7 linked regions of the Homo sapiens genome follow. The protein of the gene in region 1 purifies or fractionates together with the protein of each later gene. This does not show direct contact. Each region holds a gene or a part of one and is shown on either strand. Other genes may lie near its edges. The genes, in order: AMZ1, ANAPC7, ZYG11B, WASF1, IFT56, CYFIP1 and NCKAP1.

Evidence for each region.
Region 2: the proteins of AMZ1 (region 1) and ANAPC7 purify together in Homo sapiens (affinity purification with mass spectrometry, with the first as the bait; one large-scale study listed by BioGRID). This does not show direct contact.
Region 3: the proteins of AMZ1 (region 1) and ZYG11B purify together in Homo sapiens (affinity purification with mass spectrometry; one large-scale study listed by BioGRID and IntAct). This does not show direct contact.
Region 4: the proteins of AMZ1 (region 1) and WASF1 purify together in Homo sapiens (affinity purification with mass spectrometry; 2 studies listed by BioGRID and IntAct, with this or other methods). This does not show direct contact.
Region 5: the proteins of AMZ1 (region 1) and IFT56 purify together in Homo sapiens (affinity purification with mass spectrometry; one large-scale study listed by BioGRID and IntAct). This does not show direct contact.
Region 6: the proteins of AMZ1 (region 1) and CYFIP1 purify together in Homo sapiens (affinity purification with mass spectrometry; 2 studies listed by BioGRID and IntAct, with this or other methods). This does not show direct contact.
Region 7: the proteins of AMZ1 (region 1) and NCKAP1 purify together in Homo sapiens (affinity purification with mass spectrometry; 2 studies listed by BioGRID and IntAct, with this or other methods). This does not show direct contact.

What each region holds. Positions count from the first base shown.
Region 1 is NC_000007.14:2,715,129-2,719,553, reverse strand, and holds part of AMZ1 (archaemetzincin-1), read right to left. Parts: 3' UTR 1-4,425. UniProt on the Homo sapiens protein: Probable zinc metalloprotease.
Region 2 is NC_000012.12:110,389,895-110,394,319, forward strand, and holds part of ANAPC7 (anaphase-promoting complex subunit 7), read right to left. Parts: intron 1-4,425. UniProt on the Homo sapiens protein: Component of the anaphase promoting complex/cyclosome (APC/C), a cell cycle-regulated E3 ubiquitin ligase that controls progression through mitosis and the G1 phase of the cell cycle.
Region 3 is NC_000001.11:52,816,560-52,820,984, reverse strand, and holds part of ZYG11B (protein zyg-11 homolog B), read right to left. Parts: coding exon 4,356-4,425; intron 1-4,355. UniProt on the Homo sapiens protein: Serves as substrate adapter subunit in the E3 ubiquitin ligase complex ZYG11B-CUL2-Elongin BC. Acts to target substrates bearing N-terminal degrons for proteasomal degradation with the first four residues of substrates being the key recognition elements.
Region 4 is NC_000006.12:110,123,620-110,128,044, forward strand, and holds part of WASF1 (actin-binding protein WASF1), read right to left. Parts: intron 4,011-4,425; 5' UTR 3,983-4,010; coding exon 3,850-3,982; intron 1-3,849.
Region 5 is NC_000007.14:139,168,037-139,172,461, reverse strand, and holds part of IFT56 (intraflagellar transport protein 56), read right to left. Parts: intron 4,119-4,425; coding exon 4,065-4,118; intron 3,174-4,064; coding exon 3,110-3,173; intron 1-3,109. UniProt on the Homo sapiens protein: Component of the intraflagellar transport (IFT) complex B required for transport of proteins in the motile cilium.
Region 6 is NC_000015.10:22,917,605-22,922,029, reverse strand, and holds part of CYFIP1 (cytoplasmic FMR1-interacting protein 1), read left to right. Parts: intron 1-3,171; coding exon 3,172-3,338; intron 3,339-4,094; coding exon 4,095-4,242; intron 4,243-4,425. UniProt on the Homo sapiens protein: Component of the CYFIP1-EIF4E-FMR1 complex which binds to the mRNA cap and mediates translational repression. In the CYFIP1-EIF4E-FMR1 complex this subunit is an adapter between EIF4E and FMR1.
Region 7 is NC_000002.12:182,954,410-182,958,834, forward strand, and holds part of NCKAP1 (nck-associated protein 1), read right to left. Parts: intron 3,188-4,425; coding exon 3,048-3,187; intron 2,185-3,047; coding exon 2,053-2,184; intron 1-2,052. UniProt on the Homo sapiens protein: Part of the WAVE complex that regulates lamellipodia formation. The WAVE complex regulates actin filament reorganization via its interaction with the Arp2/3 complex. Actin remodeling activity is regulated by RAC1.

The sequences.
Region 1 (4,425 bases):
TGTATTTCCACTTGGACTGGATTTTTAAAAATAACTGTGCCATACAATCGAGCGGTGATCAAAGCTCATGTAATTAGGGCTAAGTCGTTCCCGTTGGGAGAGGCTATTGTGGGACTTGTGCGTCGGGCCAAGGGATGCTCTGGGCTCTGCTGTTGGAGCAGAGGAGGGAGCTCTGCCAGGCGCGCGGGCCTTTGCCCTCTTTAGGCATTGCTCCTGCTTGGGGGTCCGTGACAGACATCAGGTTATGCCATCAAGAGCCCCACGTGAAACAACTGCCTCCAAGTGGTGCAGGCGGGAGAGGCGGCCGGAGGATGGCAGGAATAAAGAGACACCCCCCTTCCGACAGGGGCCACCTGCCGTTCTGTCGGAGGAGTTGGGTTGGCAGCCGACAAAGCTGCTGCCCGCATCCTGCCCATCCAGTAAAGGCCTCGAGCCCTCACAAGGGGGCGCCCAAGAGGACGGCCACCACCCACCCAGAAGGGCACAGGTAGAATGTGGTAGAAGTTTGATCTCACTTCAGATGGGGGGGAAAAAAAAAAAAAAAAGTCGCCTGTTCTTGCAGCTTCCCTCCCTCTTTCCTTCCTGCTCATACATTTGGAATAAATGGCCGGAGCTCTCCTGTACCCCTGCCTGTGTTAAGCGACCCTGAGAAAAGCGTGTTCTCTGCCTCTTCCAACCCACTCCGTTTCCCGTGGTTTCTGTGACTCCCCTGTTCCCAGAGGCCTACCCCAGGTGGGCAGAGCACAGGGAGAGGAAGTCCCTGAGAGCCGGACGCAGCTCGGCCCTGGCCTGCCCGCTTCTCCCTGACCACAAGACCAAGCCCGGCTGCACAAGCCCTGTCCTGTTAGAAGGGACAGTGGAGCTCCTACGTGAGAAAGTGTTGGAAGAAATGGTGAAGAGTCCACTGCCTTCTGCTGCTGAAAGCCTGACCGAGAGGGGCGTCGGCTTCAGACTGGACCCCACACTGCCCCCGGGAGCCGTCAGCCGCGCTCATCACCTTCGTCCACGTGCCAGGTGAGTGGGCGCCCGCGGCTGCCACCAGCGTCCAAGAGTCAGGGCTGAACAAAACACGTCCCCATTCATTCCCGCTGGTCACAGACCACTGAAGGAGGCCCACGAGACAGACTCACAAAGCGCGGTGAGGGCCCTTGAACGGGAGATGGTCTTGGACTCGAGAAAGACGTGTTGGCCTTTGCTGAGAAGGGGCGGTTCAGTCATGCTGTATCCAGAAAACCAGGCACACTGTGGCGGGCAGAGCACCCTGCCTGAGAGAGAAAATGGACACTGGGCCCACAGTCAGGAGAGCCAGAGCTCTCGGCATCAGAGGAGCCCCAGGGTGGAGCCACGTGACTCCATGCCGGGCTCAGTTTCCATGTGACAGAAGTGCGTTCATTAAAAAGCCCAGGGAGCAGGCATCGAGGGAGGCCTCAGTGGTGGAATCTGGTAGGTGTCGTCTCTGGTTAATCTTGCGAGAGCTCGGGCCCCTCTCAGAGAGGGCAGGAGGTTGGACGGGCCTGGCTGCCGCGGACCCTCTGAGGGCCATTGTGGAGCCGCCGGGGGAGGCAGGGGCCGCCGTGTTTGCTCGACTCCGGTGACTATTTGGATTTGCCTCATCGTCACGGGAACACTGCAGCGGGGAAGAGTTGGACTGAACGCGTGGTGACCCCAGGACGCTTCTTGGAAATTGCTTTTTAAAATAAACCCCTGACATCAGCCTGTTTTCATTTGCCTCCCTACCCAAGAAGCTGAGTTCAAAAATAAACCTCCATTCTTCCGGGTTCTCATTCATCAAGGTGCTGCTGTAGGATGTCAGAAAAGGGAAGGCTCGGCCGGCCGTCTCCACCCGCGATCTGCATCTGTTTTTAACAGCGTTCGCAGGCCAGGGCTCTTTACAGTCAAGCCGGAAGTGTTTCCTAGATTACCCTGCGGTGTTTATCTTTGACAGCCTCGTGTTCCAAGAGCCATAAATTTGCTGCTGCTTTAGGTTTCCTTGAAACTGGGCACCTCTGTGTGCAGTTGCCCCACAGGGATCACAGCTAGATTTCAGCTCTGGAGCAGCCTGCGTGCGGGGTGAGCTCCAGAGAGCCCTTGGGTACAGGGCGAGCCGGTTCCCGGGGCCTCTCCCAGGACGGCAGCCAGGCCCCCGTGAGTCTCTCACTCTTACTGGAGCTGCAAAGCCAGCTTAGAGGACGGGCCGTCGTTTGCTTCCAGCACACAGGCAGGCAGACCCAGTTCAGGTCTATGAGCCCCGTCGCGAAGCCCTGATTCTCTCCGTCTTCACGGGGATAAAAATATTCCTGTGCAGGCCTCGCCCTCCTTTTATAAACAAAACAAATCAGTGAAGCCCCAGCAATCACGGGGGTGTTTTCGTTGGCACCTCACCTAAGAGTGCCGGCCACCCACCCAGGCCTCTCCTCAGAGTCCGAAGGAGCTGCACGGGCCAGAAAGCCTCCTGGTTATCAGAACCGAGGGGCGTGGGTGCCGGTGTGTGGGGGCTGCTCAGGGATCAGGGTGCAGGCCTCCCGCGTCCGTGCGCCTTCTTACTCTCTTCCTGCTCAGACCGCTCCAGCTTGCTTTTAGAAAGCTGCACAACAGCGGGAGAACTCGGGGTTCAAGCAAGAACAGACTGCGCCTCAACTTCCGCTCTGCCGTTTCTGAGGCTCCAGCCCTTCCCAGTCCCATCTCGACAGCCACAGCCATATGGTGGGGATGCAGCCATCTGCCTTACAGGTCATTTCGAGACTCGATGATGATGTAAAAAAATTCCGTTACATAGGAAGGACCCCTTAAGCGGTGGAGTTGACTGACCCACTAGGGAAGACTTGCCTGTCCAGGTGGGCCTTGGGCAGGGCAGCCGGTCCCTCTCTCCGAGGCCTGGCCGTCCCTGCCTGGTGGGTCTGCAGAGCAGCTCCCTTGGCACTGTATGGAGACCCTCTGCGTGTAGGTGTGTCCCTGGAATGTTCTAGCCTCCCCCTTTGAACTTGGTGGGATCTAAATTTGGACTCCCAGCTTTATCACTCGTGCTTGACTAAGCCATTTTATGTTTAAGGCTTTTGGAGATTTCGTTCATCGGGGAAAGGTCTGAAGCAAATATTAACAGGTCGGCATCCCTCCCTCCTCACCCATGCTCTGGAAACGGGTGGTGGCAGAGCTCCACTCACTGTCCCGTGCCCTCAGGGTTCACACCATGGACAGGAGTCAGGATGCTGCTTCTCCCCTCTCCCCACTCTGACAATGAGTTTGGGCTTTTTGGGGAGGAAGAGAGGGAAAAGAATGAGATTTCGGAAGAGGACTGCGGGGCTGCCTGAAGAGAGATTTGCCTCAGAGGGGACACTGCTTCTCACCCCTTCATCATAGCATGGCTGTGACGTGGGAGTGTGTATTCTAGCCACTTCAGAAGGCATGTGTTAGCTTCCCCAGACTCATCGCACACACAGCAATACAGATAACATCTGTCATGACCTGAAACTATTTTTAGCTCCATGAGGCCCCGCTGACTTGGCTTACCAAGATGGGTGAGGCTCTCCGAAGAGAGGTCATCGTCAAGCTGGAAGACCCATCCTTGTGAATGCAGGGGCTTCTGACAGATGAGACGAGAAAGCAATTCAGTGGACTTTGCACGTGTTTAAAAACTGAAAGAACCGTGGCCCTGTGTGTCTTGGAAACCATCATCTCTAAATTTAATCTCAGTTCAACTTCTGCAGCACTTAAGTTTAGAAAGATTCGTGAGCTGTGACCTTCCTCGAGAAGGCAGCCCTCATTCTCTCTCCTCTGCCTTGCGTCTTTCCTGGTGACTGTCCCAAGTCACTCTTCACCACAGCACAGACAGAACCTGGGGCTAACACGGGGGAGAGGAGGGAAACCAATTTCTCTTCCTCAAAGTTGCATTTCAAAACAGTCCTTCTAACAGCTGTCTTAAAAAATTTCACTGACATCTGCAAGTTGGTAAACGCTGCGGATAAAAGGAGTTTTTTTTAGTGGTTTGCTCCTTCCCACTTCAAAACGCTTTTTTGGGACACACATCACAGCTGAGGGTCAAAGGACACGGGTACAGAGAGCGCCGAGGCTTTGGTCATAACCCCAGTGGGCTCCCACCCTCAGCATGAGCCAGGCATTCTATTTTTATCACCTCTGTTTAATCTCGCATCACTCCAGCGGTTAACCTTTTGCAGAAGATGAAGGAAATCGGAAAACAGGTCAGGCCACCTCGCAGGTGCACCAGCCAAATCCCCACAGTGAACGCCGAGTGGGGCTGACTGACTGTTCATGAATGGCCACAGCAATATTGTGTTGTCTCACATTCCCTGCCACGTCCCCTCCCCGTGAACCTGGGGTGGGGTCCTTGTCACTGCCGCCGTGGAGTGCAGGAAAGGTGACGCTCTGTGACGTGAGGCCGAGTTAGGAAAGGCCACAGAGCTTCCATCT
Region 2 (4,425 bases), on another chromosome or scaffold:
GCACTCCAGACTGGGAGACAGAGCGAGACTCCGTCTCAAAAAACAACAAAAAAAACCCACAAAAACAAAAAAAAAGCCAGAAAATCTAAAAGTTCCTAAGAATGTAGAAGTTATAGGCAAGTGATAAAAGACCTTCCTAATAGTACACAGATAAACACAATATTCCAATTTAAAATTAGATTTTTTTTTTTGAGACGGAGTTTCACGCTTGTCACCCAGGCTAGAGTGCGATGGCACGATCTCAGCTCACTGCAACCTCTGCCTCCTGGGTTCAAGTGATTCTCCTGCCTCAGCCTCCTGAGTAGCTGGGATTACAGGCACCCGCCACCACGCCCAGCTAATTTTTTTTTTGTATTTTAAGTAGAGATGGTGTTTCACCATGTTGGCCAGGCTGGTCTTGAACTCCTGACCTCAGGTGATCCAACCACCTCGGCCTCCCAAAGTGCTGGGATTACAGGCGTGAGCCACCGTGTCTGGCAAAATTAGTAGATTTTAAACACAACAGTATTTGCTAGATCATTAACCTAAGGAAGCAGTCAATGTGAGGGCACAAAAGAAAAAAGGTCAACCCCCAATCTCTTCGATTTAACTGTGGCTTGGTATGCCAGATATTTATAGAAAGAGTGGCTCTAAAGATAAAGAACATCTGTTCCAATTATAGACCTACATTATATAAAACAATCTAATATAGCATTGATTCACACTAATTCAAACAATGGAATAATGAAATACTAAAAATAAAACTATTTTTTACTTGGCCTCAGATTTTCCATATTAGGCTACTATTTTGAAAATGCAAAGAAAAATACTTAAAAGGAAAACTCCAGGATTGATGTCAATACTTGTAAAGAATAAAAAGTTAAATTTAAGATCCTTTCTTGACTGCTGGTTATATTAACAAACTATGACTGATGGACTATCTTTCTCAACAAATATCAAAATTTCCTTTAAGCTACTTGACTGTCACTTTAAAAGAATGAGTTTTGAGTAATACCTAATGAAAAAGTCAATTATTGGCCGGGCGCAGTGGTTCACACCTCTAATCCTAGCACTTTGGGAGGCCGAGGTGGGTGGATCACGAGGTCAGGAGATCGAGACCAGCCTGGCCAACATGGTGAAACCCCGTCTCTACTAGAATACAAAAAATTAGGCAGGTGCAGCGGTACGCGCCTGTAGTACCAGCTACTCAGGAGGCTGAGACAGGAGAATCGCTTGAACCCAGGAGGTGGAGGTTGCAGTGAGCTGAGATCATGCCATTGCACTCCAGCCTGGGCAACAGAGAGAGACTCCATCTCAAACAAACAAACAAAAAAAGTCAACTATTTTAAAAATAGATACTCACTTAAAAACATCATAAAGCCACATTCCACCAGTTATAAACACAAGCAGTCATCATTTTCTAAAAACTGAGTAAGAAATTCTATGTTGGTATGTTTACTCTTAAAAGGTGAAGATTTACCAAGATTTAATAATCTAACACTGGAATTTTCCTTTAAAATGTGAGGGAATATGTGGCGATGTTTACCATATATTAACAGACATTCATTTAGACACATTTTGACTCACTTCCTTGTCCTTTACATAGACTGAGAAGCCAGTTAACTCCCTAACAGACAAGAAAGAAAAACTGTAAATGTTATAGGTTTATGTTTGAGGCACACATCTTTGCTCCTAGCTGTAAGAGCACTACAGAATGAAGGATATGTACTGCTGACAAATGCAGACTCATACAGGTGCTCTAAGAATGATGGCAATGAAAATCAAGCAGTGGATGCTATAAAGCTGAGATGCTTTAACATTACTATTTTCAAAAAAAAGTCCTACAAATATCCACAGGTCATTATGAAGGAGATTATGGTATATTTCTAATAAAGTAAGGAATAGTATCCTTCAAAGTTTATAATTAAAATGGCTTCTTGGCCGGGCGTGGTGGCTCATGCCTGTAATCCCAGCACTTTGGGAGGCCAAGGCAGGCGGATCACCTAAGGTCAGATCGAGACCATCCTGGCCAACATGGTGAAACCCCGTCTCCACTAAAATGCAAAAAAGTAGCTGGGCGTGGTGGCACACGCCTGTAGTCCCAGCTACTCGGGAGGCTGAGGTAGGGGAATCGCTTGAACCCGGGAGGTGGAGGTTGCAGTGAGCCAAGATTGTGCCACTGCACTCCAGCCTGGCAACACAGCAAGACTCCACCTCACAAAAAAAAAAAAAAAAAAAAAAAAGGCTTCTTACAAAAGGAAGATACCTTGAGCATTGCAGCAGACATTCTTCATCTGTGCAACAAGATTATTCTTGGAGTAAGAGAAGACTTTCATAGGTTACCAGAACAGGATTTAGTATACAGCATCCAGGCTTATGATGAGAGAGGTTAATTCATAATAAACTTTCAAGTGTTTTTAATAGCAGCCACCATCATACTGAAGAAATAGCTTCAAAAACTCAGAAAATAGTAAATAATACCTTAATATGAGGAGGTGCTTAAACATGTTCTCATCAAGTTTGGTTACTTTTAAAGTTCAGCAAGACTTGGATGAAGCAGCACTAACTAAAATACACCAGGCCCCTACTGCTTAGATTTCGTATCTTTTAAAGGCAGGAGGATGCACCTGTCATTTTACCTATAAAATTCCTTATTGTTAAGCACAAGTTGCACAAAACAGTTTTTCAATAAAATGAGCAAGGCAGGAGACATGACAGTATTATTAGAATATTAAATACTGATATATTCTCACATTCATGAATTTATTTGGTATTTATAAAAGTAACAGAAAAAATACTATTCTTCTCATTTTATAAATAAAAAAGTAGTAAAGCTCACAAATTGGTAACTTGCCCAAGTTCACACTGCACACAGCTTGTATGCACCTAAACTCAAACTAGACACCAGATCTTTTTTTGTTTGTTTTTTTGTTTTTTTTGAGATGGAGTTTCACTCTTGTTGCCCAGGCTGGAGTGCAATGGCACCACGTCGGCTCACCGCAACCTCTGCCTCCTGGGTTCAAGCGATTCTCCTGCCTCAGCCTCCAGAGTAGCTGAGATTACAGGCATGCGCCACCACACCCGGCTAATTTTATATTTTTAGTAGAGACGGGGTTTCTCCATGTTGGTCAAGCTGGTCTCGAACTCCCAACCTCAGATGATTCACCCACCTCGGCCTCCCAAAGTGCTGGGATTACAGGCATGAGCCACCATGCCCAGCCGACACCAGATCTTTTGATTTTAGTTAAAGGTGTTTTCTTCACTATAATATGCTGCCAAATCAAACACAAAGACATATTCTACACATAAATAAGGATAAAAGAATCTTACAGTATTAATTTTCAAAACAAAGGAATAAAACCACCCCCATTACCAAATGTGTACACCTATGGAAGGCAAAAAATGAAGTTCTAAAAAAGTATTTTTGCCACCTGGAAGTGTTTTGCAAATAAATCATTATTTCCTATAATAAGAAATATCAAAGTCTTCTCTGCCTATGGAGTAGCCATTCTTTATTCCTTTATTTTATTAATAAACTCACTTTCACTTAAAAACAAAAACAAACACAAGGAGGCCAGGTGCAGTGGCTCCTGCCTGTAATCCCAGCAATTTGGGAGGCTAAGGGGGGAGGACAACTTGAGCCCAGAAGTTTGGGACCAACCTGGGCAAATGGTGGAGACCATCTCTATTTAAAAAAAAGAAAAAAAAAATTGGCCGGGCATGGTGGCTCCCACCTGTAACCCCAGCACTCTGTGAGGCCGAGGTGGGTGGATCACCTGAAGTCGGGAGTTCAAGACCAGCCTGACCAACATGGAGAAACCCAGTCTCTACTAAAATTACAAAATTAGTTGGGCATGGTGGCGCATGCCTGTAATCCCAGCTATTTGGGAGACTGAGGCAGGAGAACTGCTTGAACCCGGGAGGCAGAGGTTGCAGTGAGCTGAGATTGCACCATTGCACTCCAGCCTGGGCACCAAGAGCGAAACTCCCTCTCAAAAAAAAAAAAAAAAAAAAAATAGCCGGACATGGTGGCTCACGCCTGTAATCCTAGCACTTTGGGAGGCCGTGGCAGGCGAATCACAAAGTCAGGAGTTCGAGACCAGCCTGGCCAACATGGTGAAACACCATCTCTACTAAAAATACAAAAAAAAAATTAGCTGGGCGTGGTGGCGGGTGCCTGTAATCCCAGCTACCCAGGAGGCTGAGGCAGGAGAATCACTTGAACCCGGGAGGTGGTGGTTGCAATGAGCCGAGATCGCACCACTGCACTCCAGCCTGGGCAACAGAGCAAGACTCTGTCTCAAAACAAAAAAAACAAAACAAAAATAAAAAATAGGCTTGGAGTGGCATCTCACACCTGTAATCCCAGCACTTTGGGAGGCCAAAGTGGGAGGACAGTTTGAGCCCAGGAGTTTGAGACCAACCTGGGCAACACAGTGGAACCTT
Region 3 (4,425 bases), on another chromosome or scaffold:
GAAATACAGGCACATGCCACCACCCCTGGCTAATTTTTTTATTTTTAGTAGAGATGGGGTTTTACCATGTTGCCTAGGCTGGTCTCAAACTCCTGCCCTCAAGCAATCCTCCCGCCTCAGCCTCCCAAAGTACTAGAATTACAGGCATGAGCCATAATGCCAGGCTGCATTTACTATGCTTTTTAAAAACTTAATGGCACTCATACTGCACATACAATTTTTAAATTTTTGAAATATTTTATTAGCCTTTTTTTTTTTTTTTTTTTTTTTAAAGACAGTCTCATTCTGTTGCCCAGGCTGGGGTGATCATGGCTCATGCCCAGTGGTGTGATCATGGCTCACTGCAGCTTGCTGTGTTGCCCAGGCTGGAGTCCAATGGCACAATTTTGGCTCACTGCAACCTCTGCCTCCCGGGTTCAAGCAATTCTCCTTCCTCAGTCTCCTGGGTAGCTGGGACTATAGGCACCAGCCACCACACCTGGCTAAATTTTTGTATTTTTGGTAGAGGTGGGGTTTTACCACGCTGGCCAGTCCAGTCTCAAACTCCTGACCTTAAGTGATCTGCCTGCCTCAGCCTCCCAAAGTGCTGGGGTTACAGGTGTGAGCCACCACACCCAGCCACATTAAAACATTTTAATACAAATAGAAGTGAATTCCATTTAAATATAAACAAAATAAGCCCACAAGGTAGGAACCTAAACTATCTGAGTTGGAGACAAAATATTCTAATATTCCCCAAATTACAGTGCATTTTAGAATAAATTATTCAGGGGCTGGGCGTGGTGGCTCACACCTGTAATCCCAGCAGTTTGGGAGGCCGAGGCGAGCAGATAACGAGGTCAGGAGATCGAGACCATCCTGGCTAACGTGGTGAAACCCCGTCTCTACTAAAAATACAAAAAAATTAGCCAGGCGTGGTGGCAGGCGCCTATAGTCCCAGCTACTTGGAAGGCTGAGGCAGGAGAATGGCGTGAAGTGGGAGGCGGAGCTTGCAGTGAGCCGAGATCATGCCACTGCACTCTAGCCTGGACGACAGCAAGACTCCGTCTCAAAAAAAAAATAAAATAAAATAAAATAAATTATTCAGGGCTGTCATTCCATAGAGTAAAACCTAAATAACTCTAATACCTAAAAGTAGTGACAAAAATAAATACTCATATGAAAATGCACTATTATTATTATTATTATTATTTTTTTTTCAGACAGAGTCTCACTCTGTCGCCCAGGCTGAAGTGCAGTGGTGCGATCTCGGCTCACTGTAACCTCCACCTCCCAGTTCAAGTGATTTTCCTGCCTCAGCCTCCCTAGTAGCTGAGAGTACAGATGTGTGCCACAACCCACAGCTAATTTTTTGTATTTTTAGTAGAGATGGGGTTTCACCATGTTAGCCAGGATGGTCTCGATCTCCTGACTTCGTGATCCACCCGCCTTGGCCTCCGAAAGTGCTGGGAATACAGGCGTGAGCCACCATGCCCAGCCAAAAATGCACTATTATTTACTTATTATGTTTTATTTTCTCCTACTGAGCTGTGAAAGGTCCATTCCTTGAGTTATGAGGAAAGGAACCTATAGATTAGAGACTGGGAATATGATGGGATCAACTGTTAAGAAATTTGGGAGTCCTCAGAACCTGTGGGTACAGTAAAAAGAAAACGACTTTAGGGCAGAGACAGTTTAATGTAGCTAAAGAGGCAGTTTTCGATTTATGAGTGAACAACTCTGCTTCTGGGTAATGTAGTAGGAAGGACCGGATAAGCCTCCAGGTGGGAGTTCAGGTGGGTACAAGGCAGTTTTCTCGGTCACATCCCATTCATTGAATTATTCTTCTTTATCTGACACAGAAGAGCTTTTACTGCATTGCCTTTTTGTGGTATGCAGTGAGTTTTCATCAAACAATACAAGAGAAGGAGCTGGGTGCGGTGGCTCATGCCTGTAATCCCAGCACTTTGAGAGGCCAAGGCGGGTGAGTTCGAGACCAGTCTGGCCAAAATTGTGAAACCCAGCCTCTACTAAAAATACAAAAATTAGCTGGGCATGGTGGCGTGTTCCTGTAGTCCCAGTTACTCGGGAGGCTGAGGTAGGAGAAATGCTTGAATCTGGGAGGTGTAGGTTGTGGTGAGCTGAGATCGTGTCACTGCACTCCAGCCTGGGCAACAGAGTGAGACTCCGTCTCCAAAAAAAAAAAAAAAACCCAAGCGAAAATCTCACTAAATGTTACTACTTCTGCTATAAGGATATTAGTAAAAACAACTCTCACATATCCTATATAAGGCCCTTTATAGTATGTCCCCTATTAAGGTCCAATAGAAGAAATTTAATTCATAGTTAACTTCTCATAAAAAATTCTCTCCCCTCCCCATCTCCCCTGACAAGGATATGGAATGTTTCCCTCTTATATGGAGAACCATGTCGCTTTTTACTTGCAGCAGAGCCACAAAAATCCCTATGCATGGCCTACAAGTCTACATTTGACTATTTTCCCTCTATCCTAGAATTTTTTTTTTTCTTTTTGAGACAGAGTCTCACTCTGTCACCCAGGCCAGAGTGCATGGTGCCATCACAGCTCACTGCAGCCTTGCTTTCTGGGCTCAGATGATGCTGCCACCTCAGCCTCCCAAGTAGCTGGGACTACAGGAGCACACCACAACACCTGGCTAATTTCTTTTACATCTTTTATAGAAACTAGGTTTCGCCATGTTGCCCAGGCTGGTCTCAAACTCCCGGGCTCAAGCGATCCACTCACCTCAACTTCAGAAAATGCTGGGATTATAGGGATGAGCCATTATGCCCGGCCCCTATAATTTTTGAAAAATTATTTTTCCTTACTTCTAATTAAAACTAAAAGTAGGCCAGGCACAGTGGCTCACACCTGTAAGCCCAGCACTTTGGGAGGCCGAGGTCGGTGGATCACCTGAGGTCAGGGGTTCAAGATCAGCCCAGCCAAAATGGTGAAACCCTGTCTCTACTAAAAATACGAAAATTAGCCAGGTGTGGTGGTGCAGGCCTATAGTCCCAGCTACTCTGGAGGTTGAGGCAAGAGAATCGCTTGAACCTGGGAGGTGGAGGGTGTGGTGAGCCGAGATCGCACCACTGCACTCCAGCCTGGGTGACAAAGTGAGACTCCATCTCAAAAAAAAAAAAAAAAAAAAAAAAAAAAAAAAAAAAAAAATATATATATATATATATATATATATATATATATATATACACATATATATACACACTTTACTATTAAAGTGGTTCTGTGTATTTCTTGTGTCAAATCATTTGTGGAATGAGTTTATATTAATAAATAATTAGGCCACGCTTGATGGCTGACGCCTGTAATGCCAGCACTTTGGGAGGAAGAGGCAGGCAGATCGTTCGAGCCTAGGAGTTTGACACCAGCCTGGCCAACATGATGAAACCCCATCTCTACAAAAAATACAAAAAAAAGCCAGGTATGGTGACGTGCACTTGTAGTCCTAGCTACAAGCTGAGGCAGGAGGATCATCTGAGCCTGGACGTCAAGGTTGCAGTGAGCTGTTACTATGCCACTGCACTCCAGCTCCAGTGATAGAGACAGACCTTGTCTCTAAATAAATAAATAAGAGTTACATCGTAGCTTTCAAAGAATAATATAGAACCTGATTCAAACACTTTGCTTCTTCAGAAACCATGGGTGCTGGCAGCGACATCTTGAACAACAGAATTTTGGGTGAATGAGAATTGGGCACCGGAATGTACCATAAACAGTGGATCTACTTAAGACCTTTTACTCAACAAATGGACTCACTGTAGTCTCCTAATCTTTAAATTCCTTGAGGTGAGAACAGTGTCTCATTCACCACTATTATTCAGTGTCTAGTTACACCATGCTCATTCTGAAAGAATACCTTAAGTTGGCCGGGCACAGTGGCTTATGCCTGTAATCCCAGCACTTTGGGAGGCTTAGGCGGGCGGATCACCTGAGGTCAGGAGTTTGAGACCAGCCTGGCCAACATGGTGAAACCCCGTCTCTACTAAAAAAAAATAATAATAATACAAAAATTAGCCGGGCATGGTGGCAGGTGCCTGATATCTCAGCTACTCGGGAGGCTGAGGCAGGAGAATCGCTTGAACCCAGGAGGCGGAGGTTCCAGTGAGCCGAGATCGCGCCACTGTACTCCAGCCTGGGGAACAAGAGCGAGACTTCGTCTCAAAAAAAAAAAAAAAAAAAAAAAAAGAATACCTTAAGTTTATAACCTAAGATGGCCTTACATTTTAAGTCAGTGTTCTTAAAAATCACTTTAATACACAATTTAGAAATATCTTTCCTGGGAAATGAGAATTTCACTTAAAGAAAAAAAACACAGTTCTTTTTTTTTGGTACATACGATTCTTGCTGCAGACATGTTGCATGGCCCAAACTGCCCATAGCTGAACTCCTGGTGTTGTGAAACAGCC
Region 4 (4,425 bases), on another chromosome or scaffold:
CTCATACAGAGGAGCCCAATAACAGGCAGCTCTTAATATAAGGTAAGAGCAACACAGCAGAGATAGAAGCACCTCACTTTCAGGTGTCAAAAGTTATTTGGTGATCAAGATACTTCCAGAGACAGTTTCTCTGGCAGATAAGGGAAGCATCCCAAATGGAAGAAAAAGCAGGTATAAAGTTACTCATTTATTCAACAATTGGTAGGGATACAAATGCTAGGTGTAGATACAGAGATGGAAAAGACTAATCTTGGCAATAAGAACTGACTATATTCCATAAGAGAAAAGCCAGGGGAAGAGATCCCTTAGGTATTCAGAATCCCAGTGGTTGTTAATGAAAGGAGTTAGCTAGCTTGCTTTAGGCAGACAGTAAGGGAAGGGTCCCCAGAGAACCTCTGACCCACCCCACAAGGGCTTACACCAGATGCTTTGTGCAGATAAGGGAACTTGCACAGGGGGCTTGCTTAAACATGCCCACAGCAGACTAAGGGCCTGCATGTGCACTAGGGAAATGTGGTGAAGCCACCAGTAATCTGTGCCTCATACAAATAGGGAACCCAGCCCCATCAGCGTCTCTCTCTCTCTCTCTCTCTCTCTCCTCTCTCTCCTCTCTCTCCTCTCTCTCTCTCTCTCTCTCTCTCTCTCTCTCTCTCTCTATATATATATATATATATATATATATATATATATGCCCTTGTATTCAACTGTGACGGGGCAACCTGGAACCTGCTTTCAGGACCCCTCTCTTGGCTGAGAGCTTTCCTTTCACTTAATAAATTCTACTCCATTCACTCTTAGAGTATCTGTGTGCCTAATTCTTCCTCATCGTGAGACAAGAACCTGGACCTAGCTCAGCTAAGGAGTAAAAAACCTTGCATCATTAAGAAAGCAATAAAATGAGAAAGAGGAAATTGATATAAAGTGAATTATAGGTTTGTGGTAATTACCTAATACAAAACAGAATTATGTTCTACTAGGAAAAATCTCACAAAAAACAGATGTACTGGCTGGGTATGGTGGCTCACACCTGTAATCCCAGCACTTTGGGAGGCCGAGGCGGGTGGATCACTTGAGGCCAGAAGTTCAAGGCCAGCCTGGCCAACATGGCAAAACCCCATTTCTACTAAAAATAATACAAAAATTAGCCAGGCATGATGGCACTCGCCTGTAATCCCAGCGGCTTTGGTGGCTGAGGTACAAGAATTGCTTGAACCTGGGAGGTGGAGTTTGTAGTGAGCCAAGATCGCACCACTGCACTCCAGCCTGGGTGACAGAGCAAGACTCTGTTTCAAAAAAATAAAAAAAGGAAGTACATTTTTGTGAGGAAAAGGTCAGGAAGATATCCAGCCCTGAGCCATGTGGATCCCTGCAGTTTACTTTCATTGCTATATTCTCAAGCACTTTCAGTACTAATAATAGCACCAAAGTGAAAATCTCCATTATCTAGAAACATTTTGGATAGCCAAGTTTTCTAAGTAATTCAGATTTTATTATCTAATACATCAATTGTTATTTTAACTATTTTCGATGGAAACTTGTGAAATGTATTCTAAGCTTCCCTCTTCTTAAATGGAATATAAAATTAAACATAATTTAATTTTTTCTTAGGGACTCACGGGCATGAATTATGAAAATCAAATATTATCCTAGGCCAGAAAACAGCCTTGAAATGTATAAGGATATTTGCTTTACATTAAATGGCTTCTTTCCAGTTTTTATGTTGCATCTTCCCTTACATCACTTTGTCCTTTCCTGTGAACTACCTCCTTTTGGTTGGGTTCAGTGATGCCTCCTTCTAGTATCTCCTCCCATGCTTCCTCCTTTTATCCTCTGAAGCATAACTGTTTGGAAACCACATCATCAAATCTGTTTGAACTATCAAGGTAAAAGTAAACAGGTTTTGAGAGAGGGATCAATTGGTTATTTTATGTGCATGGTCTTTAGTGCATGAGTTTATTTATTCTGGCTATCTAGAGGCCTTTTAAATTTAATTCCAGGTTCTCAACTATGTCAAGTGGGAAAGCTGCCAGAGAAGTTAATTTCAGGGCAGTAAGCTATTGTCACACCTTGCTAGAATATTTTATGGGTTTTCTCTTTGTTTTTGAATCTCTACAAACTGCTTAAACAATGCCTTCCAGGTCTCTGATTCTAAATGTGAAGCACCCAACACCTAATTTAGTTATATTGTTACAAGGTATTTATAATTTTCAGAGTTTCGCTACAGCATAACCATGTGCCTGCTGATAGATGTTGCTTATATGGACTATATAGACTTAAAAATTCCTTAAATTTTCATCTTTAAGTTTTGTAACAAATGGGTTAGTACTGCAAATTATCACCCTTAATCACAATATTAGTTCTAAATTCTATATTGGGTATATACCTAAAATAAGATGCCTGTACTGGATCCACAATTCATTTTAAGAAATATGTTATACAAAATTACTAATGCCATTTCTATGTTCTTAACATGTATTTTAATATTAGCATGCTTATATACTTATGTATGTACATAACATATATAAAACAAATTTTATATGACATCATGTTATACTTGATTCAATCCGTGCTAGGTCACAAAAAATCTGCAAAATATCTTTAAACAATATAGTTAATCATATTTAAACTGGGAACTCTAACACTTTTTTTATTAGCCTCAAGTAAACAATACAATATTTTAGTGATTCACTAACCTGAAAAAAATGACCACTGAATGGAACAAGGAATATACTTAAAATTCAAATAAAATAGCCTTTTATTTATTCTTACTATTTCACAGGCAATGCAAAAATTTAGTACTCTCACAGAGAATATTCAAATGTAACTTTTTATGTTGCTCTCGCTACAGGTATGCCTAAACTTTCTTACCGGAAACAAATTAGATTAACAACCTCTTGTGCTAAGTACTCAATTATAAAAGAAAGGACAAAAGTTAAAAGGAAAAGAAAAGAAAAGCCAAGCCTGCTTATCAGGAGAATTTATATGGCTGATGAGATAAATCTAGGACCACTTGGTGGATATTATCTCTGCCAAGAACACCTTGTTTCACCTTTAAAATGAAATATCAATGTCTTATGAAAAAGCTAATCCTTCAATGCAAAAGACAGACCAGATTTTTTAAATTTTCTAAATAAACTTAGAATAGAAAATAATTTGTTTAATTCCTTAACCAAGTTGCTCTATTCTGTAAATCTGCAATGAGAACATATTGCCTGTCTCCTTCTCCCTAATCTGCCTCTTTCACTGGCCTTTATTCTCTGGCCAACCTGCTTGACTTCTGTCTGCCAGAGGCCAAGTTCATTTGCTGTTTTCACACAATGCTGCATATCAGATTCCTGACTTATATCCTAATGTCTCTTAGACATCCCACTTGACTAGCCTACCCCTCTGACTAATAATGACCCCATACCTCTCACCTTAGATCTTTGCTAATATAAAAATATTTCCCTAAACTAATTAAATATATATATAAAGAGAGGGATACTAGTGTTTGAAAACACAAATAGTTGAGGCCTCTAAACAGAGTAAATAGTGATAATAACCAAGGAAAAGTACAACTCTGGTCCTTTCGCAGATTATATATTTTTAAAACAATCTCAATAATTTTCATTCATCATGTGTTTCTGTTCCTAGAGATTCTGTCCGTATTTTCCTTTCCCAGAAGAAACATCATGCAGAAGAGGTTCTTGTAAAACTCAATAATTATACTCATGTGACTATATTTTTCAGGATAATTTTGTACTCTTCTCACCAAATCATACTCCCAAATTAATCAGAAGCACAACTTCTTAATACGCTAAAGCATAACATTCTGGTTTGTGAGTATATTTTTAATTGATATATACTTACTTAGGCTACTTAGTTGTCTAATTATATTTGCCAAGGAAATATTGGTTACACATTCCAGTTCATTCTTAATGCCTCTAGGCAGTGCTGTGTGGCACAAGTGCCTAGGATCGATGTTTCTTTTCACTAGCGGCATCTTGAGATTAACCTTTGTGCCAGTTCACCTGTAGGAAATCAAAAATAAATTAACAATATTAAATTTCAGCCAACACAGAATGAGACTTTATTTTTCATTGAAGAATAAAGCACTGTTGACCCTTGAACAACATGGATTTGAACTGCCTGGGTCCACTTACTGGTGGATTTTCTTCCCTCTCTGCCTCCCTGAGACAGCAGGACAAACCCCTCCTCTTCCTCCTCAGCCTACTCAAGGTGAAAATGACAAGGATGAAGACTTTATGATGATTCACTTCCACTTAATAGTTAATTATCTTATGATTTTTAATAACATTTTATTTTCTCTGGTTTATTTTATTGTAAGAATGCAGCATATAATACATATAACTTACAAAATATGTTAAACAACACTTTATGTTCTCGGTAAGGCTTCTGGTCAACAGTAGTCTATAAGTAGTTAAG
Region 5 (4,425 bases), about 140 Mb from region 1:
GTTCCAGATGAACAACTATCAAGGTAGTGGGTCTTTACCCAGAGCACAAATACAATGCCCACCTGGCGGCTCTGACAGAGGTAGGCCCTGAGTTGCCCACATACTGTAGTTATTCTGTTAGGAATTGTTTCCTGGGTGCCTATAGTGCTCTGACACAACACTTGCTACTGTGCAGGCCATCTGTGATGGCAGGAAAAAAGCAACTGGGTCCACAGTGAAATGTTCGTGGAAGCATACATAGGTTAGGCTATTTCAATAGACATTGCAGTTAATTAGCTAGAACCACATTGTTTTTTTATTTGTTAGCATTAAGTAATTTTTTTTTTTTTTTTGCAAATTGGTTTCATTCTTTTGATGAAGCTGAGCAACTCTGTCCAACAAGGTTTAGTTTGTACTTGGAAACCACAAAGTAGTCTCAAAGTATTTTAGAGGGACTCGATATTGACGGCAAAAGAAAATTTGCAGCTACACGTTTGCTTCTAACAGTTCCCTCTCTATGAAACATTATTTTTGGTGATCTAAAGAAAGCATTGTGTTTCTTGTTTGAGATTTTACAGCTATACTTTGCTGTGTAATGTTATGGCTACCTTTCTGTAAAATGTTAGTTTTGGTGATCTAAATAAAGCCTATCTTGTTTGAAAGAAAACAAAAACAAGAACAACAACATAAAAAGAAGTCTTTGCCCACACCAATGTCCTGGAGAGTTTCCCCAATGTTTTCTTGTAGAATTTTCCTTATTTAAGGTCTTAGATTTCAGTCTTTAATCCATTTTGATTTGATTTTTGTATAGGGTAAGAGATGGGAGTCTAGTTTCATTCTTCTGCATATGGATATCCAGTTTTCCCAGCATAATTTATTGAAGAGACTGTCCTTTCTCTACAGGTTCTTGGCACCTTTGTCAAAAATGAGTTCACTGTAGACATATGGATTATTTCTGGGTTCTCTTAATGTGCTCCATTGGTCTATATGTCTGTGTTTATGCCAGTACCATGCTGTTTTGGTTACTATAGCTCTGAGGTATAATTAGAAGTCAGGTACAGTGATTCCTCCAGTTTTGTCCTTTCTGCTCAGAACAGCTTTGGCTATTCTGGTCTTTTGTGGTTCTGTATAAATTTTAGGATTGTTTTTTCTATTTTTATGAAGAATATCATTGGTATTTTCATAGGGATTGCATTGAATTTGCAGATTGCTTTGGGTAGTATGAACATTTTAACAACATTGATTCTCCCAATCTATGAACATGGAATATCTTTCCTTTTTTGTGTGTCCTCTTCAATTTCTTGCATCAATGTTTTATAGTTTTTATTGTAGAAATATTTCACTACTTTGGTTAATTCCTAAGATTTTTAAATTTTATTGGTAGCTATTATAAATGAGATTACTTTTTTGATTTTCAGATTGTTTGCTGTTGGCATATAGAAATGCCAACGATTTTTGTTTGCTGGTTTTGTATCCTGCAATTTTACCACATTTGCTTATGAGTTCTAATAGTTTTTTGGTGGAGTTTTTAGGTTTTTCCAAATATAAGATCATATCATCTGCAAACAAGGATAATTTAACTTCTTCCTTTTCAATTCAGATGTCCTTTATTTCTTTCTCTTGTCTGATTACTAGCTAGGACTTCCAGTGCTATGTTGAATAACAGTGGTGAAAGTGGGCATCCTTGTCTTGTTCCAGATCTTAGAGGAAAGGCTTCCCACTTTCCCCATTCAATATGATACTAGCTGTGGGCCTGTCATATATGGATTTCATTGTTTTGAGGTATGTTCCATTTATACTCAGTTTTTGGGGGGATTTTTATCATAAAGGGATGTTGAATTTAATCAAATGCTTTTCCAGCATCAATTGAAATGATCATATGGTTTTTGCCCTTCATTCTGCTGATATGATGTATCCCATTGATTTGCATATGTTGGACCATTCTTGCATTCCTGGGATAAATCTCAGTTGGTCATGATGAATGATCTTTTTAATGTGTTGTTGAATTCTGTTTGCTAATATTTTGTTAACAATTTTTTCATCCCTCTTCATTTGAGATATTGGACTTTAGTTTTCTTTTTTTGATGTGCCTTTGGTTTTGTTATCAGGGCAATACTGGTTTTGAAGAATGAGAGGAAATATTCCCTCCTCCTTTCTTTTTTGGAATAGTTTGAGTAGGATTGGTATTAGTTTTTCTTTAAATGTTTGGTAGAATTCTACAGTGAAGCCAATGGGTCCTGGGCTTTTCTTTACAGGGAATCTTGTTATTATGGCTTTGATCTCATTACTTGTTATTGGTTTGCTCAGGTTTTGGATTTCTTCATGGTTCAATCTTGGTTGGTTGTATGTGTCTAGGAATTTGTCCATTTCTTCTAGGTTTTCCAATTTACTGACATATCATTGCTCATAGTAGCCCGTGGTGATTCTTTGAATTTCTGTAGTATTGGTTGTATGGTGTATACATATTTGAGATGACGGTCTCACTCTGTTGCCCAGGCTGGAATGCAGTGGTGTAATCATGGCTCACTGCAGCCTCAACTTCCTGGGCTCAGGCAGTCCTGACACCTCAGCCTCTCAAGTAGCTGGGGCCATAGGTGTGTGCCACCATACCTGGCTGATTTTTTTATTATTACTTATAGAGATGGGGTCTTCCTATGTTGCCCAGGCTGGTCCTGAACTCCTGGGCTCAAGCCATCTGCCTGCCTCAGCCTCCCAAAGTACTGGGATTACAAGCCTAAGCCAGCATGCCTGGCTGGTTTTAATATTTTTATATGGAAAAAAATATCATAGGCAAAGTTTAAAGGCAAATGACCTACCAGAATGTGACAAAAGTTAATGCTCAAAAGAGCTCTTGAAAACTCAGTAAAAAATAACATTTTATATCTAAAACTGATTCAAAGTTTTAAAACTCTCAGGAACAAAACAGGAAATTTACTCTATTTATTCTCTTATCCCACTTTCGCTGAGATGTTGAGAAGAACTAATTCCAATATTCTCTCTTATTTCTGACCTCCCACTTTATAATGTGAAGCCTAATAGATACATCCCTAGACAGAGAATCAAACTTCACGGTCAATATATGCCCCACTCCAATTATGAAGCAGATCATAAGTACAGATTTCAGACATACCACATTCACTAGCTGATCCTCCCACCAACTGGAAGAACTGCTGGGCAATTTTCATATGATCCCTCTGAAAAACAAACTGAGCTGATATAGAGGAATAAGGTAAAAATATTTTATTTTATTATACTATATGGTTCTAACATATTTGTCAGGATTTAAATATACCTTTGTTTTAAATCTTGCCCCAAACAATACTAATTCTCATTAACATAACAACTAGACCCGAAACTGAATTAAAACCTGTGCAGGGACAGGCAGAGGAGAAGAAAAAGAATCAAATCCTTAAATTCTATCCTAAAACTTCATTAAATGAACTCAATCATTCTACAAATACCTATTGCTCTTTTACCATATATCAGACCTTGGAACAGGAGCTGTAGATATAACAAGGAGTATTTATTAAACTCATTTATTTAATAAATATTTGCTGCCTATCTACTATACAAGGCACTGCAGAATGAACTTGAGATAAAAAGATTTATTTGTATCCCATTTTGTTCCAAAAAGAACAAAGAACGCTGTATTAAGATGGATAAGAGCTTAATTTTAGACAGTGTTTTGGTGTTTATAAAAATAACTTCTCCAGAGAAACAATTTTCCCTACTTTACAGATGCCAAAATTATAGCTAGATATATGTAAGTTTAAAAAAAGTCGCTGCAAATAAGAATGAAGTTGCGCAATGATTTTTAAGTTAGTTATTAAATAAGTTGCTATTTAAAAATTGGACCCTTTTAAACAAGCAGGAGTCTTTAGGGTTACAAGTTTTTTTTTTGTTTTTTTTTTTTGTCTCTAAATAACATAACATTCTTTTCTCAGTGGAGTCTGGATTGGGGGATATGGAGAAATAAAAGGAGCTACAGGAGAGCCTATTGCTGCTTGCACTTTGATAGTCATTTTGTTCTCTTCCATACACTTATAACTTTGCAACCTATAGATTATCAGTGATTTCATACTCACTGAACCCATTTCCTGGCCAAGGGCTGCATTGACCACTCCTTTGAGAATATACTCCTAGAAACATGGAATAACACTGATTAAGAGGAATGTGGAGCTATGAGATCATTTTCAAATTAACTCCTTGCATTAACTCAATACTTTATATAAAGTATCAAAGATTACCCACAGTTACTTTTCTCTGTTCTATCCCTGGCTTGAATAAAAGAATTAGGAGACACTCATTTAGTTTCCAGCAGCCAAGTATCTATATAACAAAATTTACCATATTTGTAAATTCTCAATCTTAAGCAAAAATAATTTAGTGGAAGCTCCAGCAGATAAGTTTCATTTTATTTCAATTCTATGGAAAAAAAAGTAAAAT
Region 6 (4,425 bases), on another chromosome or scaffold:
TCCACCTTGATTCTCTCGCATGTGCAGATACAGTTGTCAGTACTATTTGTTGAAAAGATGATCTTTCCCCATCAAATTGTTTTGGTACCCTGTTGAAAATCAATTGTAAGTTAACTTCTGGACTCTTAATCCTATCCCATTGACCTCTGTCTATCCTATGACAGTATTTTTTCATAATCTCTTAATCTGTCTATAAACTGCTAATGTCCCCTTTTTCATTCTTAATGCTGGTAACTCGTGCTTCTTTTTTTTTTTTTTTTTTTTTGAGACAGAGTCTCGCGTGTTGCCCAGGCTAGAGTGCAGTGGCACAATCTCAGCTTACTGCAACCTTCACCTCCCGGGTTCAAGCTACTTCTGGCCAATTTTTGTATTTTTAGTAGATACAGGGTTTCACCAATGTTGGCCTGGCTGGTCTTGAACTCCTGACCTCAAGTGATCCACCCTCCTTGACCTCCCAAAGTGCTGGGATTACAGGCGTGAGCTACTGTGCCTGGCCTGCTTCTCTGTCTTTTTTTTCTTTGTTATTCTTGCTAAGCATTTGTCAGTTTTACTGTTTATTTACTGAACAGCTTTGTCTTTGTTGATCACCCTTGATTATACACTTGTTTTCTGTTTCATTGTTACATTTATTTATTTATTTATTTATTTATTTATTTATTTTTGAGACAGAGTCTCGCTGTGTCACCTAGGCTGGAGTGTAGTGACGCCATCTCAGCTCACTGCAACCTCCACCTCCCAGTTTCAAGCAGTTCTCCTGCCTTAGCCTCCCAAGTAGCTGGGACTACAGGTGTGCACCACCACACCAGGCTAATTTTTGTATTTTTAGTAGAGACGGGGTTTCACCATATTGGCCAGGCTGGTCTCGAACTCCTGACCTTGTGATCCGCCTGCCTCGGCCTCCCAAAATACTGGGATTACAGGCATGAGCCACTGCGCCCGGGTGCTTTTAGTTATTTTTCTTCGATTTTGGGGGGGTTTATTTTGCTGTTTTCTATAAATTAGTGATGAATGTTTGATAAGTATTATGATTTTTATCCTTTTTAGTTTTCTAATGCGTGCATCTAAAGCTCTCAGTTTGCTGTTAACTTGCCTTTTCCTTCTTCCTGTAAGTGTGAATATGTAGGATTGTTATGTTCACTTAAATGGGTTTTTCCTCGTTTGGTTTTTTAAATAGAACTTTTCTTTTTTGTTGATTGGAAAAACAATATAAAATCATCAGTTTTCCAAAGTAAGCATGCTGAAAACACAAGCATGGCATTAGGAAGGCACAGTGCCTGCGGCGCCATCACAGAGATGGCGCTGAGCAGCTGGGTGCGTTTTCTTCCAGACTTTTTCCTTTCTAAAATTTTCATTATTTTAATTGCATATAGACCATGAGTCTTACATGAAAGCAGTCTATTTGGAAATTCTTTACGTTATAGAAGGATGAATTAAAAGCAGACTGTCAACTTTTCCACCTGAAAATTTCATGAAAAAGAAAAGCACCAAAATCATATAAGCCATGTTTCAAGTACTTGTCAGACACGTCTTCATTTACCCATGAATCAGGCTGTTTATAAAGCCATAATGAGGAACTCAAAAGGTGTGAATAAAACCAGAAAGTGATAGAGGGAGACTGTGTGAAGCCTTGGGGAAACACATTTGTGTTCTTGCTAAGTGAACTTCAAACCAACAGATTTAATAAAAGTAGGAAGATGCCTAGCCAAGCATGGTAGTGCATGCTTATAGAACTAGTTACCCAGGAGGCTGAGGCAGGAGGATCGATTGACCCTGGGAGTTCAAGGCTGCAGTGAGCTATGATCATGCCACTGCACTCCAGTCTGGGCAACAGAGTGAGACCCTGTCTCAAAAAAAAAAAAAAAAAAAAAAAGCTGCCTTAATTTTGAATCTGTCAAATACTTAATTTCAAAAGGTTTTTTTTGTTTGTTTGTTTTTTGTTTTTTTTTATTACTGTGGACTGAAGACCATTTTCAGATGTTGAAGTAGGGTTTTTGTTTTGTTTTGTTTTGAGACAGGGTCTCGCTCTGTCACCCAGGCTGGAGAGCAGTGGCATAGTCATGGCTCACTGCAGCCTCGAACTCCTAGGCTCAAGTGATCCTCCTGGCTTAGCCTCCCGAGTAGCTGGGACTATAGGCTCATGCCACCACACCTGGCTAATTTTTAAATTTTTTGTAGAGATGGGGTCTGGCCATTTTGTTCGGGCTGATCTTGAACTCTGGTCTCAAGTGATTCTCCCGCCTCAGCCTCCCAAAGTGCCAGGATTATGGGTGTGAGCCACTGTGCCTGGCCAAAGAAGGGTTGTTAAGATTTTCCCAAATGTATTAGTCTTAGGTACAGCGTTCTAGTTAAAAGATAAAAAGAAGTGAATTATGTTTCACTGGTGCTATTAAATGTTCCACTTTGGTGTCTTATATGTCAGACATCCACACGGCAGGGTGGACTTGGGGTAAGTGTGTCTTGCTCTGCCTCACTTGCTGCTTTCAGAGAGATTTCTAGGCCTCACATAGCTATCATGAAGTTGGCTGTAGAAATATTTATAAACGGCAAAAGCCGTAAGAAAGCTCATGCAATTGTAAAGGTCATACTTGGTTTGTGACCTTCAATTGTTTATTCAGAAAGTAATAAAGCACACTGTCATGACAAAATTACTGTCTGGAAACAGGGAAATAATGAGCCCTGGCACCATTTTTCTGTCCCAGGAATTCCTTTGGAAGCTCTTTGTCATGTAATTATGTTCCATCAGAGTCTTCCAGGCTTTTTCTGTGAATGGTAGTTCACTGCGCCTTTGTTGTGAACAATATGGGATTTGGACTACAACCTCTTGTAACTTCTTTTTCTAGTAATATCATGCCTGCTTTCCTGAGTCTTTTTCTTCTTTCCTATTTGAATTCCATCACAGGAGGGTGTGCTGGGGTGGATGCATGTGTGTTTCGAGTCAGATGCATCCCTGTCCTCCAGGTGCTCATGGTCTGATGGGGAGTCAGATGCGGGCACAGTTCCATTGACTATGGCTTTGGAGAAGACGTTTTGGGGCAGGGCAGCTGCAGGGCACGAACGCGGGAGGGCGTAAGGTGCTGTGGGCGAGGAGGAGCAGCCCCCGGCATGTGCCAGGCAGAGGAGGCTTGGTGCCATCCCTAAGAAGGGCCGTCCCTGTTGCTGTGTCCCCCGCAGGTGATCGCCATGATCAAAGGCCTGCAGGTGCTGATGGGCAGGATGGAGAGCGTGTTCAACCACGCCATCCGGCACACCGTCTATGCCGCACTGCAGGACTTCTCCCAGGTGACCCTTAGGGAGCCGCTGCGGCAGGCCATCAAGAAGAAGAAGAACGTCATCCAGAGGTCAGCCTTCCCCACGCCCTGTGCCCGCTGTGCCCACACGTCCTCGGATGAACTTGGATTCAAACAACAGGAGCGTTAAATTCTCAAAAATGATTTCAATATATTTATCTTCAACCTTCAGATGCCCTCTTGGTGAATTACCTCTAAAAGTAATGCATGGGTCCAATTATTAACCCAAACAATGGACAGTAAGTCAGCTGCCGAGTGTCTAGGGAGTCTGAGGACCCCGGGACAAGGTGCATTTATCCCAGGCTCGCGGTGCCTGTGGTTCATGCATGGTGCCTTATGGGGGTCTCTGCACGGTGGAGCCCTGTTGGTGATGAGGCTGTGTTCCAAACCAGTCGAGAGACATGGCCAGGCTCTGGTCATGTGGGTGACTTCACATTCCTGTTGGTTACTGGGGACAGCCAGCTGCGGGCAGGCGGGGCCCAGCTCTGCTCCGTGCGGAGGCTGTGTTCTGCCCTCTCCCTGCCCACAGCATGACTCAGAGCCACCTCACTGCTGCCCTGGGCTAACAGATGCGAACTGGAGCTCAGGGCAGTCTTCTGGGGGTAGTAATACTCTCCAGAAGGCAGACTCCTTTTTAACTTTCCTGTTGAGCTGGTCCATTACCACATCCCTCCATGGCCCCCAGAGTAATTTGTATTTTCATGGGGGCTGTTCTGAGAGCCTTGTAGTTGGGTGAGGAGATGGTGTGATTGTGAGGCTGGAGGTCTCGGCCTCTGGGCCTTGCTGATCACTTGGTGGGGTGTTCAGTGTCCTGCAGGCCATCAGGAAGACCGTGTGTGACTGGGAGACGGGGCATGAGCCCTTCAATGACCCAGCCTTGCGGGGCGAGAAGGACCCCAAGAGCGGCTTCGACATAAAAGTACCACGCCGCGCCGTGGGACCCTCCAGCACTCAGGTTCTCGTCCCTTGAGCCCCGCCTGCACCCTCTCCCTGGGGGGACCCACCCTGAGCTGTGAGCGGGTGGGGCTGGTGAGGCCCGGGTTAAATGAGGTCCTCGCTGCCTGCTCAGGCAGAGAAAGTGGCGCCTGTGGTTTCTGCTGCTCCTCTGTTTCCCACCCAAGTGAGTTGGGAGCGTGAG
Region 7 (4,425 bases), on another chromosome or scaffold:
CTTAGACTTGTATTTGTAAGGATGAATCCTTAAAAGACAACCGACAAATCCCATCACTAGAAACAGGCCAAGAAGAGCCAACGCAAGATGAAAACTGCTATCCTAGTGTATAATCCCTAAGTCCTAAGACTGTGCTCAGTTGATTGACAAAAACCAACCCACTAATATTCACAAGCTATCTGGCTGGCCAATATGGCGAAACCCCGTCTCTACTAAAAATACAAAAATTAACCAGGCACAGTGGCACACGCCTGTAGTCCCAGCTACTCGGGAGGCTGAGGCAGGAGAATTGCTTGAACTTGGGAGATGGAGGTTGCAGTGAGCTGAGATTGTGCCACTGCACTCCAGCCTGGACGAAAGAACAAAACTCCGTCTCAAAATAAATAAATAAATAAATTAAATAAAATAAAAAATCTTTCCAAGGTAAACAAGCTGTTCCCCTTGCCTTGATCCTAATCACTAAGTAGATGTTTGGTTAAAAAAAAAACTGCTTCTCTGTGGATTAACAAAGCAGACTGTTTACAAGGAAAACAAGGGAGCTGTACACTGAACTCTCCCTTCCACCCACCAATGTCCCACCTCTAACCCACTTGAGAATAATAAACACCACAAGGCACAATGCCCCTTTGGTCTAAGTTCTAGGGCATTCTGGGTTTTACTGTCAGGATGCCTGACTTACTAAGGAGAACAAAAGACAGTTCATCACCAGACTCTTCTCAAGTCAACTGATAATTTAACACTCAACTTAGTGCCACTTTATATACTGTCATATTCTGTTCTCTAATTCTTTTAGTCATCTCACCAGCTACAGTTCTATCTTTATCTCATTATTACCTAGAGTACTTAACACATTGTTAAGCATATAGTGCAAATACAAACACCACCTGTTAATGACTACAGAAACTTTGAAAACCTTTTGGCAAAATTTTGTTTTATAAATTGCTTCAAGGCTTTGAAGAAAAAAATTGTCAAATAAATAAAAATTTTCATGAATAAATATTAATAAATAAGGATGTAACTTCAGAAAAAGGTTAAAACAATATATATAAAGTTGAAAGGTTTCTGACTTATCAATGCACTATTTCATATACATACATAAAATATATATTCATATATAACAGGAAATTCTAATTAGAATTGAGAATTCAAGAATCTAGAATTCTATTGGCTTATTTAACAGCAACATGTGAATTCAGAAAACATGTAAGGGTTCATCTAGTCCTCAGGTCTTCAAACATTTTACTGTGACCTACTGCATGACACGCATCTTAACACTGCAAGTCAATACACATGCATACATGTAACTGAAACATTTCACGAAGCAATATATATATTTAATGCACACAGTGTACTGGGTTTTTTTTCCTATTTTTTCTTCCTCTTGTCCTTTCTTTCCCTCCCACTTTTCTCTAAACTTTGACTACAACCTAATAAACTGATTTCATGAACCTACTGGGTTGCCACCTGCAAGATGAAATACATTGATTTGCTCCAATATTCTCACTTTGTATATAAGGAAGCTATGACTCAGAGATATTAACTGGTTTGCCTGGTGTTACTAGTTAATACTAATAGGTATGAGAAAAGAATCTGGGTATCTTCAGTAATTTTCAGTTCACTATTCTTTGCATTTCCCAGTTCATTATTCTTGAGACAGAGTCTTGTTCTGTCACCCAGGCTGGAGTGCAGTGGCATGATCTTGGCTCACTGCAAGTGTGTCTCCCGGGTTCACGCCATTATCTTGCCTCAGCCTCCCGAGTAGCTGGGACTACAGGTGCCCACCACCACGCCCAGCTAATTTTTTGTATTTTTAGTAGAGACGGGGTTTCACTGTGTTAGCCAGGATGGTCTCGATCTCCTGACCTCGTGATCTGCCCACCTCGGCCTCCCAAAGTGCTGGGATTATAGGCGTGAGCCACCACGCCCGGCCCGGTTCATTATTCTTAACACTAATCCAGTTCTACTAATGCTTTTCCTTATAAAACACTGTATAATTAAATAACAAACTCATTACTGAGTCAACAAACAAAAACAGTCAATATTCTTTCTTACTTGGTAAAGCGTATTTCCAGATGAGAAGTCAAATATTCTCGTGGGGTAAAGGTATGTTCCCATACCACCATGTTTGGTACATAATTTATAGAGAAGCATAACTCAGAAAGTGCAGTGTGCAATTTATCAAGGCTGAAAAAAATTAATAAACAGTTAAAATGTTCACATGTCATCACAGGCAATACAAAATTAATTTTATAAATATATCAACCTTATTTGGAGATAATGCTTAGAGAATTCGACTTTTTATTCTCCTAAACTGAGAAAGTTCAAAATCTTTAAGGTTATAACTAACACATAAGAGCAATATTCTAAAGATGGCGTCATTTGTTTCTACCTTTAGGTAGTAATGAATATACTGACTTAATATACAAAGGTAGAGCTTATTCTGCACTCATAAAGATAATCACGCCCAATTCCTGAAGTACTTTCTGTTATGAGAGAAGGAAAGTTGTCTATAAAAGGGCAATGGCTTGCTCAATTTAGCAAGAAAGTAGGAACTATACTTTAAACAAAAAATATTTACCGAATTATTACCCACCTACACCTCCCCTCCAAACAATGAAGCAAGCAAAGATCCCTGAATGCTACCTGGTCTGTTATTTCTGTTTTATAATAATGACATTGGGTATGTTCTAATATATCAAAAACATGCCAAAATAAAGTCTCCACTATCTAACTTTAAATAAATTAAAAATTACAGATTGCTTATAATGTAACACACAAAATTTTTTAAACATATAATTGGCCTTCAGTACTTAGTATAAAAAGACAAATATCAACTATTACATATATTTTCTTCTAAAGGCCAAAATCTGTATTTTGAGATGAAATAAGCAACTAACAGGTTAATTAAGCTCAGAAATATTTTTTAAAATGGCTGGAAAATGAAGAATATACAATTATTAGCATTTCCTCAGTACTAATGTCAATAGAAAAAAATGAAATAAATATTTTACCTGGAGCAAAAAGGTATAATATAAGTGGATACTTACTTGGTCACAACCAGCCTGTTTTTCCTCATGCTCTCAACACCTGGTTTCTCCCTTTCAGGTTCCCCTTTCTTACCAGTCTGCTTTTTTGATTTCTTATTCACTGCTTGACTGATAGTTTTGGCACAATGCTTGGGTAGCAACTAAATTTAGAAAAGAATGAAATCTTACATTACACCAATTACTCTGAAAGCATACTAACTATTCAAGCAAACAGTAGCTGAATCCAGGCTGTGTTGCAAATATCACAACAATATTAAAAGACAGAAATATAAGTGAGATACAGAGCTTACTTAGCTAGCTTGGGTAATGCACATAGCTTGGTGAAAACAGAAACGGGTAGATCTTGGGTAAATCTTGTGTGAAGAAACACGTCATAGAGTAAATTCATAGACGCTTATTTAAATTACTATTAAAAAGACAAGTAAAAACATACCAGGCAAGCAAGGAATGAAAAAGAATATTTCACTGGAAGGATTAAATGGCCTTTGGAAAAAAACTGTGTAAAGATATGATGGTTCAGAGCTGTAGTTAGAACTACTATGTGGTGGAGCATAACGTGTAAGGTAAAGTACAGAGGTTTCAACTATTAGGAAGGGCCTTGAATGCCAAGCTAGAGGTTGGATTGTAAACTGCAGGCAAAAAGACAGCGACAATTTTTTAAAATAGCCACAGCATGAGGAGACATTTTCTTTTCTTTTCTTTTCTTTTGAGAAGGAGTTTCACTCTTGTTGCCCAGGCTGGAATGCAATGGCACAATCTCAGCTCACTGCAACCTCTGCCTCCTGGGTTCTCCTGCCTCAGCCTCCTGAGCTGCTGGGACTACAGTCGACTGCCACCACACCCAGCTAATTTTATTTGTATATTTTTAGTAGAGATGGGGTTTCGCCATGTTGGCCAGGCTGGTCTCGAACTCCTGACCTCAGGAGATCCACCTGCCTCGGCCTCCCAAAGTGCTGGGATTACAAGCGTGAGCCACCATGCCTGGCCATGAAGAGGTAATTTTCTAAGGATAACTCTGATATTGGCAGAAGAAAACACTGAAAAAGGAAAATTGTAACAGAGCTGCTAGAAATAGTTCAGACAAGGCATGAAAAAGGGATATGAAATAGGCAAGTGTAATAAAAAAATTTTAATGGGCAGATCTGAGACAGACTTCTGAGATAAAATTGAAAGGATTCAGTAACTTAGATGTGTGAGAGAAGCAGGAATCAAGTATGACACAGAGGTTTCTACCTAACACATTGTTAAGACCAATAATTAAAACAAAAAAACCACACAGGTACAAATCAGAAATAATTGATTTCACTTGACAGGTAACAAAGCAGGCAAATGAGAAATAAGAAATAACATTTTAGGTAGAAGGAGAGCTTCACTGTAC